6 linked regions of the Homo sapiens genome follow. The protein of the gene in region 4 purifies or fractionates together with the protein of the main gene of each other region. This does not show direct contact. Each region holds a gene or a part of one and is shown on either strand. Other genes may lie near its edges.

Evidence for each region.
Region 1: the proteins of TRA2B (region 4) and SAFB fractionate together in Homo sapiens (co-fractionation; one large-scale study listed by BioGRID). This does not show direct contact.
Region 2: the proteins of TRA2B (region 4) and POC5 purify together in Homo sapiens (co-immunoprecipitation; one large-scale study listed by IntAct). This does not show direct contact.
Region 3: the proteins of TRA2B (region 4) and KDM4A purify together in Homo sapiens (affinity purification with mass spectrometry; one large-scale study listed by BioGRID and IntAct). This does not show direct contact.
Region 5: the proteins of TRA2B (region 4) and DDX47 fractionate together in Homo sapiens (co-fractionation; one large-scale study listed by BioGRID). This does not show direct contact.
Region 6: the proteins of TRA2B (region 4) and ODF2 purify together in Homo sapiens (co-immunoprecipitation; one large-scale study listed by IntAct). This does not show direct contact.

The regions. Positions count from the first base shown.
Region 1 is NC_000019.10:5,640,083-5,643,582, forward strand, and holds part of SAFB (scaffold attachment factor B1), read left to right. Parts: intron 1-1,511; coding exon 1,512-1,576; intron 1,577-1,657; coding exon 1,658-1,864; intron 1,865-3,500. UniProt on the Homo sapiens protein: Binds to scaffold/matrix attachment region (S/MAR) DNA and forms a molecular assembly point to allow the formation of a 'transcriptosomal' complex (consisting of SR proteins and RNA polymerase II) coupling transcription and RNA processing.
Region 2 is NC_000005.10:75,673,624-75,676,530, reverse strand, and holds the end of POC5 (centrosomal protein POC5), read left to right. Parts: intron 1-1,952; coding exon 1,953-2,096; 3' UTR 2,097-2,407; downstream 2,408-2,907. UniProt on the Homo sapiens protein: Essential for the assembly of the distal half of centrioles, required for centriole elongation. Acts as a negative regulator of centriole elongation.
Region 3 is NC_000001.11:43,667,149-43,670,648, forward strand, and holds part of KDM4A (lysine-specific demethylase 4A), read left to right. Parts: intron 1-595; exon of another isoform or gene 596-623; coding exon 624-871; intron 872-1,951; coding exon 1,952-2,151; intron 2,152-3,500. UniProt on the Homo sapiens protein: Histone demethylase that specifically demethylates 'Lys-9' and 'Lys-36' residues of histone H3, thereby playing a central role in histone code. Does not demethylate histone H3 'Lys-4', H3 'Lys-27' nor H4 'Lys-20'.
Region 4 is NC_000003.12:185,917,537-185,921,014, reverse strand, and holds part of TRA2B (transformer-2 protein homolog beta), read left to right. Parts: intron 1-1,518; coding exon 1,519-1,578; intron 1,579-2,576; coding exon 2,577-2,650; intron 2,651-3,289; coding exon 3,290-3,300; 3' UTR 3,301-3,478. UniProt on the Homo sapiens protein: Sequence-specific RNA-binding protein which participates in the control of pre-mRNA splicing. Can either activate or suppress exon inclusion. Acts additively with RBMX to promote exon 7 inclusion of the survival motor neuron SMN2.
Region 5 is NC_000012.12:12,816,346-12,819,845, forward strand, and holds part of DDX47 (probable ATP-dependent RNA helicase DDX47), read left to right. Parts: intron 1-3,500. UniProt on the Homo sapiens protein: Required for efficient ribosome biogenesis. May have a role in mRNA splicing. Involved in apoptosis.
Region 6 is NC_000009.12:128,469,506-128,473,005, forward strand, and holds part of ODF2 (outer dense fiber protein 2), read left to right. Parts: intron 1-1,802; coding exon 1,803-1,963; intron 1,964-3,407; coding exon 3,408-3,500. UniProt on the Homo sapiens protein: Seems to be a major component of sperm tail outer dense fibers (ODF).

The sequences.
Region 1 (3,500 bases), on a different chromosome or scaffold from region 4:
ACCTCAGGTGATCCGCCTGCCTCGGCCTCCCAAGTGCTGGGATTACAGGCGTGAGCCACCGCGCCTGGCTGGAGCCGAAGTTTTTAAATAGTGGGGTGTAAATCAGAAATTTTTAGAAAAGTACAGGTGATCAACAACAAAAAGCAAATGATTCAAAGCAATTTGAGTAGTCAGGAGATAAATTCGTGTTAAAACAGTATTCCTTTTCTTACCTAGCATATTGGCAAAGATAAAGAAAAATAGCAAATTTTTAACAGAGATTCAAGAAAGATTGGCTTTTTTTTTTTTTTTTTTTTTTTCTGGAGATGGAGTCTCGCTCTGTTGCCAGACTGGAGTGCAGTGGTGTGATCTCGGCTAACTGCAACCTCTGCCTCCCGGATTCAAGCGATTCTCCTGCCTCAGCCTCCCGAGTGGCTGGGACTACAAGTGCACGAGATTGGCACTTTTTAATTCGCTGTTGATGGAAATGTATAAGTTAAAAAAAAACCTTCCTCTGCAATTTTTGTTTTGTTTTGTTTTGTTTTTGAGACAGAGTCTTGCTCTGTCATCCAGGCTGGAGTGCAGCGGCACGATCTCAGCTCACTGCAACCTAAACCTCCAGAGTTCAAGCGATTTTCCTGCCTCCGCCTCCTGAGTAGCTGAGATTACTGGCAACCGCCACCACAACCAGCTAGTTTTTTGTATTTTTAGTTGAGACAGGGTTTCGTCAGGTTGGCCAGGCTGGTGTCAAACTCCTGACCTCAAGTGATCCACCTGTCTCGGCCTCCTAATGTGCTGGACTTAACAGGCATGAGCCACCGTGCCCAGCCCCTCTGGAGTATCTTGATAGTATGTGGGTTTTTTGTTTTTCTTTTTTTTTTTTTTTTAACCGAGTTTCGCTCTTGTTGCCCAGGCTGGAGTGCAGTGGCGCAGTCTCGGCTCAGTGCAACCTCCGCCTCCTGGGTTCAAGTGATTGTCCTGTATTTTTAGTAGAGACGGGGTTTCACCATGTTTTCCAGGCTGGTCTCGAACTCCTGACCTCAGGTGATCCGCCCGCCTAGGCCTCCCAAAGTGCTGGGATTACAGGCGTAAGCCATCGCATCCGGCCCTTCTTTTTTCTTTTTAAGCATTAAAAATGTGCATACTCGGGCATGCGCAGTTTCTGTGGGAAAACATGTTCCTTAACTAAAAGGCAGCACATTTGCAACAAATAATTTTTCCCTCAAACAAGGACACTTGGGATAGGAAGAAGGGCAGAGCTGAGGACAGGTCTGATCCTGTTCAACTTTACTAAGAACCTGTTTTCTGCACTTCTACTTCCACAGCTCAGACAAGAACAGAACCTCTTCTGCTTGGGGGTGGGGCAGGGCTGTCTTGTGCGGAATGGCCTCATTCCTGGATTAGGAAGTGTTCCTAAGTAGTGAGGTGTCTCAGATGTTTATAAAGTGACCACTTGTGTAGTGCTCAGGGCATTGTTGCTTCTGTAAAGTGCGTATCATTTGATCTCATGCTGTAAATGATTCTGTCTTCAGGGCGCAAACCAGAAGAAGAGGGTGTGGAAGATAACGGGCTGGAGGAAAACTCTGGGGATGGACAGGTATGTGCAGCCTTGCGAGTGAGTAGCGTGGTGGATGGACCAGTGGCGGTCACATGATGGTTCGGTCTGGTTGTGTCACAGGAGGATGTTGAGACCAGTCTGGAGAACTTGCAGGACATCGACATCATGGATATCAGTGTGTTGGATGAAGCAGAAATTGATAATGGAAGCGTTGCAGATTGTGTCGAAGACGATGATGCTGATAACCTCCAGGAGTCCCTGTCGGATAGTAGAGAGCTAGTCGAGGGGGAAATGAAAGAGCTTCCGGAGCAGCTTCAGGAACATGCTGTAGGTAACCGGCAATGTCTCTAGAATGTGCCCTGAATGTATCAGTTCCACAATTAAAATAGGTGATCAGTTTCATATTGGGAAGTAAGTTGTTCTGTAATGCCAGTTCAGTAGAATAAGGGTCAGTTGGTTCAGATGATTCTGAACCAATTTGTTTTGTTGAAAGGTGATGTCTTATAACATTTCATATGTACTTGCTATCCATTTGCGGCATACAGTATGAGACATTTTGAGGACAACCATTCAGACTCTTCCTGTTGCCGGACTTGATCTGTGGTGTTATGGCCTAGGTACCTTGAAAGCATTGAACTAGGAAGAGGTTAGAAGTTGGTGTTTTCCTGTTAAGAAGCAATTGTTGAGCTGGGTGCCTTGATGCACTCATGTAATCCGGTAACTCAGAAAGCTGAGGTGGAAGGAGCAGCCCAGGAGTTCAAGGCTGTACTAAGCTATGATTGTGCAATTGAAGTCCAGCCTGGGTGGCAGAGTCTGACAGAACCCTATCTCTTGTTTAAAACAAACAAACAAAAAAAAAAACACAGCCAGTTGATACCTATCTTAAGAGTTAACCTCAAGTATTAACCTGGATGTTGTTTTTAAACCTAAATTTTTTTCCTGTTAGAAACATATCAAATGGATAGTAAGATTATAGTGGGTAGTATTTCCTGAATACTACCTACCAGGCATTGGCATTATGCCCTTCCTTTCTTTTTTTTTTTTTTTTTTTTTTTTTTCTGAGACAGAGTTTTGCTGTTGTTGCCCAGGCTGGAGTGCAGTGGCGCGATCTCAGCTCACTGCAACCTCTGCCCCCTGGGTTCAAGTGATCTCCTCCCTCAGCCTCCCAAGTGAGTAGCTGGGATTATAGGCGCCCACCACCAAGCCCGACTAATTTTCTTGTATCTTTAGTAGAGACGGTTTTCACCATGTTGGCCAGGCTGGTTTTGAACTCTTGACCTCAGGTGATCCGCCTGCCTCAGACTCCCAAAGTGCTGAGATTACAGGTGTGAGCCACCGCGCCCAGCATGTGCCCTTTAATTCTTCTAATAGCAACATGAGGTGCTGTTGTCCCCATTTTCAGTTGAGGAAATTGGGAAGGCAAGAACTAAAAAACATCTCCAGATGACACACAGCTCATAACAGAATAAGAACTAAGATCAGGCTAATTCCAGAGGCCATGTACTTAACTTATGTACGATGTTGTCTTGGTGCCATTAATTTGATATTAATTTCATTTACCTGATGATTAATGTTTGTCAGACAGAAAAAGTGATGCATATGAGAAGCTGTGGGGCCCTTTCTGTGTTGGCTCGTGGGGGGCCCTGTTCTTGTCCTGGTCCTTAGGTCTTCCGCAGTGAGTGCTTCTCAAGCAGTCTTGGTGGACAGAAACCTTGTTGTATGCCAGTCAATCCGCTTCTGCATTTCTTCAGAATATTTTTGCATTTCCTCTTGGAACTGATTCCAAGTATCCTTAGAGGTAGCAGATTGTCATATTTGAATGGAGGATTTGAGTCTGAGAAGTGGCTGAGAGTTATTCTGATACAAATAGGGTGTGCAATTTTTGGTGAGTCCCATTCATCAGCTTCTAAAAAGGAGTAGCAGAAACACTTGCACAGCAGCAGGAGTTACTTACCCTTCCTGA
Region 2 (2,907 bases), on a different chromosome or scaffold from region 4:
TAGATGATTAAATGAAGACAAGCTGGATTGATTTGAACTGAACTTCAGGTGAAGTGGGACCTTAGCGAGGTGGAAGGCTGGAGATAGAAGCACCAAGTCCAGATAGAGACATGGAGATGACAGAGGATTTATTTTAGAATTATCTTAGGTTTCATGTTTCATAAGTTGGACAGACTCTGAAAGTTCGTAGAAGACTTTTCTATATATTTTTGAATATGGAAGACAAGTTATCAAAAATGAGAAGAAATAAACCCACTTCTGTTTTTTCAGATGTAGAAAATGTATAGAGATGGTGAGAGACTGTCCATTTGTGAGGTAAAGAAGGTGTAAAGAGAGCACATGTGTGTTTATTTTTTATTAGACAAGCTTTTGTTTTGTAGTAATGATGGGAATTCATATTTTACAGAAGAAAAATCAAAGTACTAAACATTTAGAACCCTTGTTTCTGATACTTATCTCCCATGCTGCCCTCCCTTTATTCAGTATGTGCATTTCTTACCCACTAACTGTGTATGAACCAGATAGCCATCAGCTGCCTGGATTATGTGACAGACACAGTGGCAGTCATTTGTACTGTATTTCTTTTCACCCTGGGAATCAAGATCTAAATCTACCAGAAATAGTTATTACTAAAAAACCAAGGATGCGATTTGTGACACTGTAGCCTCATCTGCTGGGTAACTGCATGCTTCTAGGGCCACTTCATTCTCTGTCATATTTTGTGTATCATAATTTCAGTGGCTACTTTATTTCTACAGTTCCTCTTGCCCATCCTCCTCAAGGAGAAAGCCTTTTTGGCAGGCTCAGGTTAGTGGCTGGCAACTAATTAGGTGACTGGCAACTAAAATTTCTTATCTGTTGCAAGAGTATCTCCTATTTATAATGGTTATCCAGTTGTTTATGTACAAATAAACGTTTTTATAAGATACTTTAAGAAAAGAAGTTATTTTTCTTTAAAAAGGAGTTCTGTTCTTTTTAAAATGGAATCTGACAGGATCTTTTGTTTTTAAGAAGTTTCATTCTTTTTTTAAGCAAAAACTACAGCTTGGAGTTTTTTAAATACATAGTGAATGTTTTGACCAAATACATGTAATTTTACTTAAACTATTTTAACAATGACTTTTCTAAGTGGAAGACCCTAATAGAAATTGACATGTCCTAGTCAGTGATATGGACTGAGAACTTGATAACAAATCCCACTGCTGGCTACTAAGAAGCTTTATCGGGTTTAATAGGGAAAAGCCTTGTACTGATACATATTGTTCATGTTTACATGTAAATGTGTACTTGTATACATAGTGTGTACTTACATGCATTACATGCATATTATGTGTGTCAAGTAAGTCACGTGTGTCCTGACTTTAATGACTCAGTGCTCATGTCTGAGGTGTTCCTTTGAGCTCTGAGGTGATGTGCATAAAAGTTTTAGTCTGCTCCCAGGTGAACCAGGTTAAATATGAGGGCTCTGGTTTAAAGCAAGGACCAGACTGCATCCTGAGGGCTTCCGTGTGCCCCTGGGATTGTGAGATAATCACATCCACATACTAACAGTCAAGTAGAGAGAAGGAAGTTGGATGGAATGAGGGGAGGACTCAGGGCTGACCCCTCTTCCAGACACCACAGAGTTTCTCTCTGTATACAAAGCCTCTGTACACATTACAAGATTCCACTTGGCCCTGTTGGAGGAATGGCTGCCGTGGCTTTCTTAATGAGCCTTGTGGATATAGCTCTGATATTACACTGTGGGTGTTGAACATGTCAGTCAGACTGGGTAGGGGTTCCTTACAGACAAAGGCCTCATCTAATTAACAGCTGCTTCACTCCACTCATTGCTTCTTTCTACTGGATCTTAACAAATGTTTATTGGGTTAAATTATAGATGATAGATGATGAAATGATACATAGTATACATAATCTTGGGATATTATTAAAGCAGAATTTTGTCTTTTCAGCAAACCATTCCTCAAGCAACTGCAGCAAAATATCCCCGGACCATTCATCCTGAAAGTAGTACCTCAGCTTCCAGATCACTTGGAACCAGATCAGCTCACACCCAGTCTCTCACAAGTGTTCATTCCATAAAAGTGGTTGACTAAAGTGAATATGTCCATAGTGGGGTCTTTTAATCCCTCTGGTCTTACCAAGGGTTAGAAGTCTTTTGGTTTTAACTTTTCCATATTGTTAGAACATCATGGAGACATCATGTTCATCTGTTCAAAATTACAAGAGGCTTTTTCAAGCTCTACCATGCTTTGTAACTATATGTAGAAATTATTTTAATGTTATTTTTTATTTAAGCAATTAAGTAAAACTTTTTTAAATTAAAAAAGAAACTGGACTTTATTTCTTTAATATGTTTAGCCTGTTGCTGATTACAGCATCAAAATATATAAATTTATTTTCACTATTTATAAAACACTAAATCATTTCCAATATTACACAGCTGTAATTCACTCAAAGTGTTGAGAGGGAACCTTACTAAAAACAAAGTATTAGAACTAGTGGAAACTAGGATATTTTTATTTTTAATTTAAAAAAGACCAAGTGTAATAATGATTTTTTTTTTTTTTTTTTTTGAGACAGAGTCTCGCTCTGTCACCCAGGTTGGAATGCAATGGTGTGACCTCGGCTCACTGCCTCCTCCTCCCATGTTCAAGCAATTCTCCTGCCCCAGCCTCCCGAGTATCTGGGATTACAAGTGCCAGCCACCATGCCCGGCTAATTTTTGTATCTTTTTTTAGTAGAGACAAGGTTTCATCATGTTGGCCAGGCTGGTCCCGAATTCCTGACCTCAAGTGATCCGCCCGCCTGAGCCTCCCAAAGTGCTGGGATTACAGGCATGAGCCACCACGCGCGGCCCCGTTTTTTGTGGCTTTAACATGTTAGTCTTCATTTTTCCAGGACTCT
Region 3 (3,500 bases), on a different chromosome or scaffold from region 4:
AGATACGTTGGCTGGTGATTAGAGTATTTCTTTGAGCTGCTGGAATTCAGAAACAAGCAGCTAGCAATGTGTCAGAGTACTAACATTTTGTGTTCATAAGGAATTTTTAAAAATGTGTTCAGAATTGGGAAGTATAAAATGAGGTTCTTAAGTCCATTAGGCATTAAAACCACATCCACACACGTTAATACTCTTGTTTATCCATTCCGAGATTTCTCTGTTGAAATTTTTAGGGGTTTCCTTTACTCTAGGGAAGCAGCAGGGTCGGGCCTTTGACTGATAGTAGTAGACTTGCTTGTGTGTTCCTGGCTTGGACAGGGAACAAGGGCAGGTGGCTCACCGTCCTGGGGGCCTAAGTGCAGAGCCTAACCACCCTCTGTGACCCCGAGTTAGTGCCCAGGTAGATTTGCCCCAGTAGCATGTGCTCTCTGCCTTTTTTTCCCTGCTTCCCTTCATGTTTGAAGGTCCTGCAAGGATAACATGCCCTCAGCCTGTGAACCAAAACAATCTGGTTATAAACCATCTTGCACTTGTTTCCATGTGGAGGGAGGAGCTAGGACGTGGGGGTGAGTTGGAAGCAGCAAGGTATGCTCACCTGGTGCTCTTCTGGTTCCTGCTGACAGTGCTCCTGTAGAAAGGACATGGTGAAGATCTCCATGGATGTGTTTGTGAGAAAGTTCCAGCCAGAAAGGTACAAACTTTGGAAAGCTGGGAAGGACAACACAGTTATTGACCATACTCTGCCCACGCCAGAAGCAGCTGAGTTTCTTAAGGAGAGTGAACTGCCTCCAAGAGCTGGCAACGAGGAGGAGTGCCCAGAGGAGGACATGGAAGGGGTGGAGGATGGAGAGGAAGGAGACCTGAAGACAAGGTAACCCAGCAGCCCTTTTGTCCTGGCTGCGTGAGGGAGGGATGTCTGGGTAGGTCCTGTAATCTGTGGAGAGGCTGTTTCTTGTTTTTTTTGTTTTGTTTTGTTTTTGTTTTTGTTTTTGTTTTTGATGGAGTCTCGCTCTGTCGCCCAGGCTGGAGTGCAGTGGTGCGATCTCGGCTCACTGCAAGCCCCGCCTCCCGGGTTCAGGCCATTCTTCTGCCTCAGCCTCCCGAGTAGCTGGGACTACAGGCACCTACAGCCACGCCTGGCTAATTTTTTGTATTTTTAGTAGAGACAGGGTTTCACTGTGTTAGCCAGGACGGTCTCGATCTCCTGACCTCGTGATCCGCCCACCTCGGCCTCCCAAAGTGCTGGGATTACAGGTGTGAGCCACCGCGCCCGGCCGAGGCTGTTTCTAAGATGCCGTTTGTGCCTTGGCTAAGGGAGTGTTCTTGGTAAAGGCTCCAGAAACCTGAGAGCCAGAGCATTCAGGCACTTTCTGAATGAGAGACCTGTAGTGGGCGTGTAGTCTGCTGGAGCAAGGCGTCAGTTATATGAGGGTCGGGGGCATTTATGTGCGAAGGTCGGGCTCCCTCTGAGCCAGAAAAGTCATGTTTTCTCATCATATCAGAGAGTCTTTTAAAAAGAAGTGTAGTGAGGATGAGACTCAAGGGCATTGGTAATGTCGTGATTTAAGTCTGCAGTGCTATTGGTGGCTGAGCCAGGGGATCTGTGCTCTGAGGAGAATTTATCCTGGGCCATATGGGAAAGAAAGGAGGAACCGTTCCTTGGTACCTGCTATATGCCAGGCACTTTGCCAGCTACTCTGCATACCTTTTCTTAATCCTCACAACAAATCTGTTAGGTGGGTGGTAATACCTGTATTTTCCAGATGATTGAACAAGGTCAGAGAGGTGAAGTCCCTTGTCTCAAGTCACAAATAAGAGGTGTCCCTGAGTTTTGAGCCAGGCCTGACAGGCTCTGGCCATTCACTTTGGGTTGTGTGTGGATGTGTATGAATGTGTTTGAGTAAGTGGATGTATATGTGGGCTCTTAAAAGATTTGCCCTCTCCCTTGCAGCCTGGCCAAGCACCGAATAGGGACAAAGAGGCACCGAGTTTGTCTTGAAATACCACAGGAGGTGAGTCAGAGTGAGCTCTTCCCCAAGGAGGATCTGAGTTCTGAGCAGTATGAGATGACGGAGTGCCCGGCAGCCCTCGCCCCTGTGAGGCCCACCCATAGCTCTGTGCGGCAAGTTGAGGATGGTCTTACCTTCCCAGGTTAGTTGACTATGGTGTATTTTCCACAACCCTAACTCATATATGTGTCCCGTGTTAGATGCCATATTGAGTGCTGGGTCAGAAATAAAAAAGGCAGAGTGACAGGTCCGTGAGCAGATAGCATACTTGGAGTGTGAGAAGTGCTTTGGGTAGGGATGTACAGGGAGGACTGGACACGTAGGGAAAAGCTCCTCCCTCTGCCTGGTCAGGGGTCAGGGAAACACTGGAGGTTTTGGTGAAGGTGACTCTTACAAGGTAAGTAGGACCTTCCCAGGCGGACAGAGAGAGAGGAGGGATGTAGAAAGGGAGTCCCAGATGGGAGGAGCAGGGCACAGGCATGGAGATGGGAATTTTTTTTTTTTTTTTTGAAATGGAGTCTTGCTCTGTCATGCAGGCTGGAGTGCAGGGGCGCAATCTTGGCTCACTGCAACTTCTGCCTCCTGGGTTCAAGCGATTCTCCTGCCTCAGCCTTCCAACTAGCTAGGACTACAGGTGCCTGCCACCATGCCTGGCTAATTTTTTTTTGTATTTTTAGTAGCGATGGGGTTTCACCGTGTTGGCCAGGCTGATCTTGAACTCCTGACCTCAGGTGATCCGCCTGCCTCGGCCTCCCAAAATGCCAAGTGGGATTACAGGCGTGAGCCACTGTTCCCAGCAGAGATGGGAAATATTAATAGCATGGTCCACTTGGGGGAACTGGTGGGGAGTTTCCCTCAATTGAATATTAGGGTGGAAGGCAGCTGTGTGACCAGAAGGTGACGCTGGAGAAATAGGAGATGATGTAGGGCTGTCTGCCATTTTCATTTGCTCACTTGGAAGCTTAAGAAGCCATTTATATTTTAAGAGAGGGAGTGGTGTGATCAGTGCTGTTTAGCAGTCACTTGGAAGGTCATTGAGGCTAGATTTGTTAGAGAAAGGCTTGTATCTGTCTTGGGTCAGGTATGACCCAAAGATGTGGTCTGCCGACAGCCAGGCAGCACTGTGGACTGACACCCTGGGCTGGGCTGGCTTCTCTTCAGCAGATTTTCTTTCCCTTTTTTCTCTTCAAATTTATTTATTTATATTGACAGATAAAATCGTGCATATTTGTCTTGTACAACATAATTTTTTTGTTTGTTTTAGAAACGGGGTCTTACTGTGTTGCCCAAGCCTTTGTGAACACAGCTCACTGCAGCCTCAACTTTCTGGGCTCAAGCAATCCTCTTGCCTCAGCCTCTCAAGTAGGTGGGACTACAGGCATACACCACGCCTGGCTAATTTTTTTTTTTTTTTTTTTTTTTTTGAGACGGAGTCTCACTCTGTCTCCCAGGCTGGAGTGCAAAGGCATGATCTTGGCTCACTGCAACCTC
Region 4 (3,478 bases):
TTTGCTTTAGTACTTTTACTCGAGAAATGCAGAGTAGAAAGTTAAATCAGATTCTAAGGTTCTGTGTCTTAATCAATTTAATGTGTAACTGGATTTCTGTTCAAATATTCTAGAATATAAATGGGATTTAAATGATAACTTGGAATATTAATAATAAAATGTGTTTTATTTTTAAACATTGAATGAGGCCAGGCGCAGTAGCTCACGCCTGTAATCCCAACACTTCAGGAGGCCAAGGCAGGCAGATCACCTGAGATCCAGCCTGGCCAACATGGTGAACCCCGTCTCTACCAGAAATAAAAATTTAGCCGGTTGTGGTGGTGCACGCCTGTAGTCCCAGCTACTGGCAGGTGAATTGCTTGAACCCGGCAGGCAGAGGTTGCAGTGAATTTAGATTGCACCACTGCACTCCACTGTAGGCAACAGAGCGAGAGACTCAAAAAAAAAAATAAATAAATGAATACATAGTGAAAGCAAAATTATAGGCTGAGGCAGGGGAATTGCTTGAGCCCGGGAATTTGAGACCAGCCTGAGCAGCATAGGGAACCTCCACAAAAAATGAGGCAGGAAGCCGGGGAGGTTGAAGCTGCAGTGAGCCAAGTACGCTCCCACCTGAGTCTCCTCCCCCAGAGCAAGACCCCACCTTAAAAGAAAAAATTATAGCCTCTGTCTTAGCCTTTTAAAAGCAAATTTATAATGGCTTATAAAAGCAAATTTCATAAGCCATTTTGGAAAGCCAACACTTTTCAGGCAGTTTCTTGTAATCTCTTAATGCATGCATCGTACACTGAGGGCAGGTAAAATGGATGCCTTGAAAGAGTCCAGAGAATAATTTTAAAGATGTTAATTTAGTATGACAAGGGTATGTGGCTTTTTATTTTTGCCAAAAATTTGGTATTTCGGGGTTTGGGTAGGGAAATGTCAATCATAGTTTAAAAATAAAGATATCTTTGAGAATACTTCCAAAGATAAAAATGAAGTAAAATTGTGACATTTTGGTCCTCCCTTGTCAAAATGTGTAATTTGACAAGTCAAATAATGTAGTTAGTAAGTATTGACCACAGTTGTCATTGATAATGGTATTGAGGTATATGGATGTCTATTTTGTGCATTATTTGGCAATGTTTAAGAAGTTAACAGTTGTCAGTCATTGTCTGAAAGTGAGTCTGTAAGTGTATTGTTCAGCATTTTATCACCCATGAAAACCCTTTTTTTATTTAAAGCATCACTCTATTGAATGGTACTAAAGGTACAAATTTGTTGGGGCTGAGATTTTTTTCTTAGTTTGATTTTTTTTTTTAAGAGCATTTACTTAGGAATGTTCTGTGTTCTAATACTACTTATTTCAGCCACCAGAGAGAACCCTATGCCAGTTTCTAAAAAGGGTGGCAAATCACTTGACCTGCAAGAAACATCTCATTCATGCTCTATGAAAGTTTTTATTTTACTAAATGAATGACATAATTTTTTAAAACTTACAAACTGAATGCGTGTTGTGTTGCCTTTCTGTCTTCACAGAGGAGGAGGTGGAGGAGGAGGAGGATGGAGAGCTGCCCAAGACAGGGATCAGATTTATAGGTATGCCAGGAGAGGACTTAGCATCTGTACAACAGTATAAAGCTTCACATAAAGATGTTTGCCTAGTAATGTTTTGGTAAATTATAAGTGGAATACCCAAAATCAGACTGTTTGAAGCTCATGAAAATATTCTAACGGAAACTAAATGTATAAAGTCTTTGTATATTTATAAAAATTAATTGGTTTTGCAATAGATTATTTAGTGATACCATTTTATACCGTGATGAGGTACAGTGATGTTAGTCACTGATAACTCATTTTTTTTGTCATTATGTTCTTGTATTACATTTTCCTTGCTTTTTAAAAGTAAGCATCTCAAATAGCACAAGAACATTCAAGCCAGCCTTTTTAACACAAAGCTAAATCCTGAAGCACTTGTGAAATTAGTTTTGGGTGTTCAAGAGGGTGCTGTTGGGATTATTTAATGGTATGGGAATTTTCTCATTTTTATTTTTAATTTTTGGAGACAGAGTGTTGCTCTGTTGCCTAGGCTGGAGTACAGTGGAGCAATTTGAGCTCACTGCAGTCTCTGCATCCCGAGTAGCTGGGATTACAAGCATGCACCACCGCACAGAGCTAATTTTTTTTTTTTAGTAGAGACAGGTTTTCACCATGTTGGTCAGGCTGGTCAAACTCCTGGCCTCAAGTGATCCTCCTGCCTTGGCCTCCCAAAGTGCTGGGATTATAGGCGTTGAGCCACCGCACCCAGCCAGGAATTTTCTTTTACAAAACTCTCTTAACATAGTTCACAAAATTTAAAAAGTAAGTAGATTAAAATATAGCAAGGATTATTTGACCTTAAAGTTATTAAGAGTGCTTATTTGACACTTGGGCCTGATAATGTGCTTCATTCTCAAGATTTAAACAGACCTTGAAGGTTCATGCAGCTTTCCTTTTTTGGGGAACTGATGAAAGGGCAGTATATATAGTCATAAATTTATATGTTTGGTCTAATTGTGATCTATTGAGACTTAGACAATCTTGACATTTGTTTATAGAAGGCGGTCACCTTCTCCTTACTATAGTCGTGGAGGATACAGATCACGTTCCAGATCTCGATCATACTCACCTCGTAAGTTTTTATCTTAATATGATTGTTTATATTGTAGTATGGCTTGCTCTGATGACAGTGTATTCCCTTTATCAGATAATGGATTGGTTTCAGGTAGTTTCATACCTAATGATTCTCCACACATCCTGAACATTTTTTGGTTCAAGAAAGTTTGTGGAAACAACCCTTAGAATCCTATTATTTTTTAAGAAGGAAAAATTGGACAGCCTCCTGAGCCAGAGTAGGCTCGGAGACTCCTGTTGTTTCTAACTGAAATAGTAAATAATGTATTTCCACCATTTACCCAGAGTAGGCTCAGAGACTCCTGTTGTTTCTAATTGAAACAGTAAATAATGTATTTCCACCATTTAGTAGCTTTTCAAGAGTCCTTAAAAATTTTTGGACAGCACAGAAACATGGATTACTTAGCCCTTTAGTTCTCAGATTGAGTTATATACTTCCCAGCAATTTCTGTTATTTAAGATTGCTATCTCATTTCTGGTGTAATACTTACATGGAAGTCTTTCTCTATTTGGGGGTGGTGGGGTTCTGGCACATAGGAATTTCTTAATGGCAGAATATTCTGAAATTCTCGGCATTAAAGTATACTTGATAATTAGTTCACTTAATATTAAAGCATGTTCATTCTTTTCTTCCCAGGTCGCTATTAAAGCATGAAGACTTTCTGAAACCTGCCCTAGAGCTGGGATATTGTTTGTGGGCAATATTTTTTATTGTCTCTTGTTTAAAAAGTGAACAGTGCCTAGTGAAGTTAGGTGACTTTTACACCTTTTACGATGACTACTTTTGGTGGAGTTGAAATGCTGTTTTCATTCTGCATTTGTGTAG
Region 5 (3,500 bases), on a different chromosome or scaffold from region 4:
TTAAATGGTCTCCCCACAAAAATGACAAGTATGTGAGGTGACAGATATGTTAATGAGCTTGATTTAATCACTTCACAAAGTATACATGTATCTAAACTTTGCATTGTATACCATAAGTATAATTTTTTGTCAATTAACAAAACTGGGGGACAATAAAAAAGGAAAAAAATACCCAGTTGGAATCCTGGGATTGGAACTTGATTGAGAGGCCAGAGCTGGATATACACACTGTATCCAAAGAGCGGTTATAGCTGAGATTGGAAATGGATTAGATTGGCAAAGATGACAGAGGAAAATTGGAAGATTCAATAGAGGGTTGAAAATCATGAGAGTATAGTTTCACACAAATTAGGGAAGGGAAACTGTTTCAAGGAGGGATTAGTAAACACTTCAAACTTGTGCAGAGAAGTTTGGAGGATAAGGACCGTATAAAGGCCAGTGGTGGGAAAGAACTATCAGCGGCCCAGTGTTACTTTTAAATAGCAAGAAGCGTTCATGCATTTTAACTTTTCCAGCTTGCCCTACAGTGTAGGTGAGAAGGAGTCAAAATAGCTGGCAGTAATCCTAAAATTATTCTGATGTTTTCAGCCATAAGTTTAAATTTGATGCAGAAAAGAATAGGGAGGGGTCAGTGGAAGATTACTAGGAACTGACAGAAATGATCACCATAGAAATGTCTTTATCCTTATTCTTGGGTTTGTCTCATTCTAATGAATAGTTTATAAATGCTTCATTTGAATCTATAGAAATGATTCAAATAATCTGTTTGTTTTTGTTGCTGTTGTTATTCGGTGAAAATAACTTCTAAATTTGAATTTGGGACTACTGACGTTTTCAGTTTCTGCAAAGTTACTGAGCCCAGATTGTCCGCTGTTCTTAAACCTTATAACAATGCTGAATGGTAGTTACGGATAATTATTTTATTAGTGAGGAAATTGAGACTCAGGGAGTTAAGTCCTTTGGCTAAGGTCACCTAACTAATTATTGCTAGAGCCTGAATTTGAACATAGAATCTTATAGCTCAAAAAACCTCTATTAATGGACCTGCATCAAAGTTTGTTACTATCAAGAGATCAAAAGTTGTTTGATGGGCATGGTGGTTCATGCTTGTAATCCGAGGACTTTGGGAGGCTGAGGTGGGAGGATTGCTTGAGACCAGGAGTTTGAGACCTGCCTGGGTAACACATTGAGACACCATCTATTTATGTCTGTTTCAGAGATCACTTAAAGTTGTCCTCAAGGAATTTCAAACAATTTATTAGTGGCTGCCATATAGCAAGCGCTTATGTTCGGTGCCAGCAATGTGGCAGGTCTATATGACAAAATCTATTCTGCTCTTATGGAGTTTATGCATTCTGGTATATTCTCTACAGGTATAAACACTGAAAAGGCTTAGCGGTTTCTTCAGAGATGAAGAAAGGAGATGACGTAGAAAAATATATCAGTTTCACAAACTGAGGGTTGCTGTGAGGGACTTACTAAAAAACTGAAAGCAGTGCAGGCCTCAGCTGTAGGCAGTGAGCAGTGCTTATTGCTTCATGAACTAAGCGACTTCAGCTCCTTTACTTCCCTAAATCTTTCTTATGTACTCCTTTCTTCTGAAATGTTAAGATTTCCCTTGACAAAAAAAGGACAAATCCTAGTTCCCCCGCCTGCTGTTCCCGAAGGTGTATTGTGTTACACAGGCTGGGACGGCAGTATCCCCAAGGAGTTGAGGAATAAAAAGCTTTGGGAATCATTTGCTTGCACTGACCTTTATTTCTCAGATAGGTAGATGCTGTTGCAATTCATTGTTACCTACCCTGCCACTGGGAACATTAAAATAAGTAGATGAGTGAGACATTTTATCCCTGGATTGTCATTTGTCTGTAATCTTTAAAAAAATCAGTCCATTGGCTGGGCGTGGTGGCTCACGCCTGTAATCCTAGCATTTTGGGAGGCCGAGGCGGGTGGATCACGAGGTCAGGAGATCGAGACCATCCCAGCTAACACGGTGAAACCCCGTCTCTACTAAAAATACAAAAAATTAGCAGGGCGTGGTGACGGGCACCTGTAGTCCCAGCTACTCGGGAGGCTGAGGCAGGGGAATGGCATGAACCCAGGAGGCGGAGCTTGCAGTGAGCCGAGATCTCGCCACTGCACCCCAGCCTGGGTGACAGAGCAAGACTCTGTCTAAAAAAAAAAAAAATCAGTCCCATTGTCTGGTTTGACTTGTATTTCACATCTGTGCATATGCTTTTGAATGGAAAACACTGATGTTAATGAAAAGAAGGCTAAAGAATAGAATTCACTAGGATACACTGTATGTTAGTCCTTTTTCACACTGCTGATACAGACACACCCGAGACTGGGAAGAAAAAGAGGTTTAATTGGACTTACAGTTCTGTGTGTGGCTGTGGAGGCCCCAGAATCATGGCAGGAGGCGAAAGGCACTTATTACGTGGTGGCGGCAAGAGAAAATGAGAGACATGCAAAAGCAGAAACCCCTGATAAAACCATCAGATCTCATGAGATTTATTCACTACCATGAGAACAGTATTGGGGAAACCACCTCCATGATTCAAATTATCTCCCACTGGGTCCTTCCCACAACATGTGGAAATTATGGGAGTACGACTCAAGATGAGATTGGGTGGGGACACAGCCAAACCATATCACACTGTTGTCTGATCTGGCATGGCAGATCCTGGTTTAACTGATTAATGTTTAAGAGGTGGATCTTACAGGTCTGTTCTACTTGATCAGTGACATTGAACGCCACTGATCACTCTTCTTTCTTGAAGCTGCCTTCCTCCTTAATTTCAAGACAGCATTTTCTTCTGTCTTTCTAGCTGTTCTTTCTCAGTCTCTTCTTCTGGTTCTTTTCCCTTTGCCTTACAATATTGATTCTGTCTTTACCCTTTTTTCTTACTCTGAAATACTACATAACATTTCTCATTCAGTCCTCAAGCTTAAACCCTGTCTGCATCAGTGAGTCTGTATTCTTCAGAATCATCTATGGAGCTTTTTTTTTTTTTTTAAATAGAGATTTCTAGGTCCCAGCCAAGACCTACTGAATCAGAATTTCCAGGCATGGGACCGGGCATATATATATATGTAAGTCTCATCGATTATTCTGAAGCATCTGCCCCTGAGGAAGTACCAGTGGTAGGATACTCATGGCTCCCATGTCTGTTCTAACCCCCACTTTTTTCCTGAGCTCCAAACAAGTATGTCCAGCTGGTTTTTAGACATACCTCCAAATAATTATGCCCAACTGGTTTTTAGACATATCTCTAAACAAGTATGTCCAACTGGTTTTTAGACATATCTCTTTGAGTTTACTATAGGAATCTTAAGTTCCAAGTTCCCTGTGTGGAAACCAAAGTCCTTATTTTCCTCACCAGGACTAATTTTTCTGTTGCCTATATTGCAGTTTTTGGCTTTTGAGTGTCCCGTACTAAAAATGTGTGAGTCACCCACATTTCCTTTTGTTAGTTTCTGAATCTCATTCCTGTGCT
Region 6 (3,500 bases), on a different chromosome or scaffold from region 4:
TAGCTGGGGCAGCATGGGATCCCATCCCACCAACAAGGGCCCTCTCTATTGAGCATGTAGCTGTCCTGGTGCTCCACATGGGTGGTCCAATTTGAATTTTTACAACAGCATGTGAAGCCAGTGGTGTTACTGTCCTCATTACAGAGATGAAATACCTAGGAAACTAGGGCCTATGCCTTCCGCTTTATATAAGGTTTAACAAAAACAGGCCGGGCATGGTGGCTCACGCCTGTAATCCCAGCACTTTGGGAGGCGGATCCCCTGAGGTCAGGAGTTCGAGACCAGCCTGACCAACACGGTGAAACCCTGTCTCTACTAAAAAACAAAAATTAGCCATGCGTGGTGGCGTGCACCTGTAGTCTCAGCTGCTCAGGAGGCTGAGGTGGTAGAATTGCTTGAACCCAGGAGCCAGAGGTTGCAGTGAGCTGAGATTGTGCCATTGCACTGTAGCCTGGGCGACAGAGAGAGTCTCTGTCTCAAAAAAAAAAAAAAAAAAAAAAAAAAAAAAAAAAAATATATATATATATATATATATATATATAAATAAAAAAATTAACAAAAACAAAGCCCCAAAGAGGCCAAGGAAGTTTGTCCTCAGTTGCCGTGCTCTCTCTTGGGGTGGGATGTGACAATGGAATTGGAAATAGAACCTGGAAGTCCAAGGTCCCCAACTAGGAAATTGGCAGAGTTGTCATTAAAATCCAGGCCTTAGACTTGGATTGCTATGTCAGCCTATGTCTTCACTGCTAACACGACCTGTGTCTTTAATCCTCCACCCTGTACTCGAGGTCCAGGGAACCTCCTGGAGAACCTAGGGCTGGCTGCCTAGAATAGGCCCTTCTTGGCCAGGCGTGGTGGCTCATGCCTATAATCCTAGCACTTTGGGAGACTGAGGAGGGCAGATCACTTGAGGTCAGGAGTTCAAGACCAGCCTGGCCAACATGGTGAAACCCCATCTCTACTAAAAATACAAAAATTTGCCAGGCACACGCCTGTAATCCCGGCTACTTGGGAGGCTGAGGCAGAAGAATCACTTGAACCCAGGAGGCAGAGGTTGCAGTGAGCTGAGATCGTACCGCTGCACTCCAGCCTGGATGACAGAGTGAGACCCTGTTTCAAAAGAAAAAAAAAAAAAGCCCTTCTTCCCCTATAACTCAAAGTGCAAGAGCCTTTTTGTGACATCTCTCCTCCTATGGTGTGCCAGCCAAACCACGGTTTGCAACCTGGCTTCGTTCCCAACCCACAAGTCACTGGGGCTCTCTGTACTGAGTTTCCTCATCTACAAAAAGAAAATCAGCATCTCCCAGGAGAGTCAGTCTTCATGGCAGTTAACTGAGATTGCACCCATAAGGCCCTGGCATGCAGCCTGTGTAGTTCTCAATTGGAAGGCTCCTTATTTTTTTGTTTTTGTTTTTTTTTTTTTGAGATGGAGTCTCACTCTTGTCCGCCCAGGCTGGAGTGCAGTGGGCACGATCTCGGCTCACTGCAACCTCTGGCTCCTGGGTTCAGGCGACTCTCTTGCTTCAGCTTCCAGAGTAGCTGGGATCACAGGCATGTGCCACCACATCTGGCTAATTTTTGTATTTTCAGTAGAGATGGGGTTTCACCATGTTGGTCAGGCTGGTCTCGAACTCCTGACCAAAAGTGACCTACCCACCTTGGCCTCCCAAAGTGCTGGGATTACAGGCGTGAGCCACCACGCCCGGCCGGGGCCTTATTTTGGTCCAAAGCATTGAGCCTAGCAATGTGGCATAGAGGAAGGACCTCCCTTCAGTGGCCCCTGCCTGGGTCCCCCTGCTCAGGTCAAGATGCAAAAAGGTGAGCGCCAGATGGCCAAAAGGTTCCTGGAGGAACGGAAGGAAGAGCTGGAGGAGGTGGCCCACGAACTGGCTGAGACTGAGCACGAGAACACGGTGTTGAGGCACAACATCGAGCGCATGAAGGAGGAGAAGGACTTCACCATGTAAGGTGGCTCCTGCTCTGTCCCCGCTGATCTATTCCTCCCTACCAGGCTGCCTTGAGCCCTGGGCAATAATGGAAAGCAACGTAGGAGGTGGGCACAGGCACTGTGCCTGTGCCCTGGAGCCTGTTCAACAGTCACACAATTAATTACAGTTAATTACCTGGTTGTGCTTATGATTTGTACTATGAGGGAAAGGGAGGACCCCGTGGATTGTGGTGTGGGACTGGGTAGCAGGGAACTGTTTCTGGAACAAGTGATATTTAAGGGGTGTCCTGCAGGATGGTTAAGCATTCGGCAGGTGGGTGCTAGGGAAGAAAGCACGCTACTCAGTGGGAACATCTTATGCGAAGGCCCCAAGGTGGGAAAGTGTTTGTAGCTGAGAAATGGAAGGCAGGCCAGAGTGGGTGGGCAGAGGATAAGGGGGCCACATAGGTTGGCAGGGGGCTGGCTCTCAGCAGCCACTTTGAGGCATTTGCATTGAGGGCATTTGGAAGCCATGGAAAGGATTTATTTTATTTAATTAATTTATTTGGCCGGGCGTGGTGGCTCACGCCTGTAATCCCAGCCCTTTGGGAGCCAAGGCGGGCAAATCACAAGGTCAGGAGTTCGAGACCAGCCTGGCCAACATGGTGAAACCCTGTCTCTACTAAAAATACAAAAATTAAGCCGGGCGTCGCGGCGGGCGCCTATAATCCTAGCTACTCTGGAGGCTGAGGCAGGAGAACTGCTTGATCCTGGGAGGCATCTCAAAATTTTTGAGATGGAGTCTCGCTCTGTCATCCAGGCTGGAGTGCAGTGGCGTGATCCTGGCTCACTGCAATGTCCGCCTCCTTGACTAAAGTAATCCTCCTGCCTCAGCCTCCCAAGTAACTGGAATTACAGGTGCCCACTACCATGCCCGGCTAACTTTTGTATTTTTAGTAGAGATGGGGTTTTAGCTGTTGGCCAGGCTGCTCTCGATAACACCTGATCTCAAGTGATCTGCCCACCTCGGCTTCCCAAAGTGCTGGGATTACAGGCTTTAGCCACTGTATCCAGCCTACAGCCATGGAAGTTTTAAAAGCAGGGAGGTGGCCTGACTAGCCTTGGCTGCAGTGTAGAGAAGAGGTAGAAGGGCTCAAAATCGTATCTGAAGATGGTGCGTAGGAGGGCGTGACAGTGGAGGGGGGCAGTGCAGAGATGACAATGGTGGCTGTTTGAGAGAAACAGGGCCACAGGTAGCTAATGTCTCCTGGTGTGGAGGCCCTGGTCTGGTGCCCAGGCAGATGTAACTTCTGGCCCTGGTCCTTTCTGAAGGCCACCCAGGCCAGAAGGGCTGTCCCTGCCCCCTCCCCTACTTTTCCCTGACCAGAGGTGAGCCCCCTAGGGCATTGTGAGGCAAGCCTTGGATCTCTGGGCATGCGGGGGCCTGGGAGGGCTCACAGAGCCGTCTTTCTGGCCCCAGACTTCAGAAGAAACACCTACAACAGGAGAAGGAGTGCCTCATGTCCAAGCTGGTGGAGGCGGAAATGGATGGGGCTGCGGCTGCCAAGCAGGT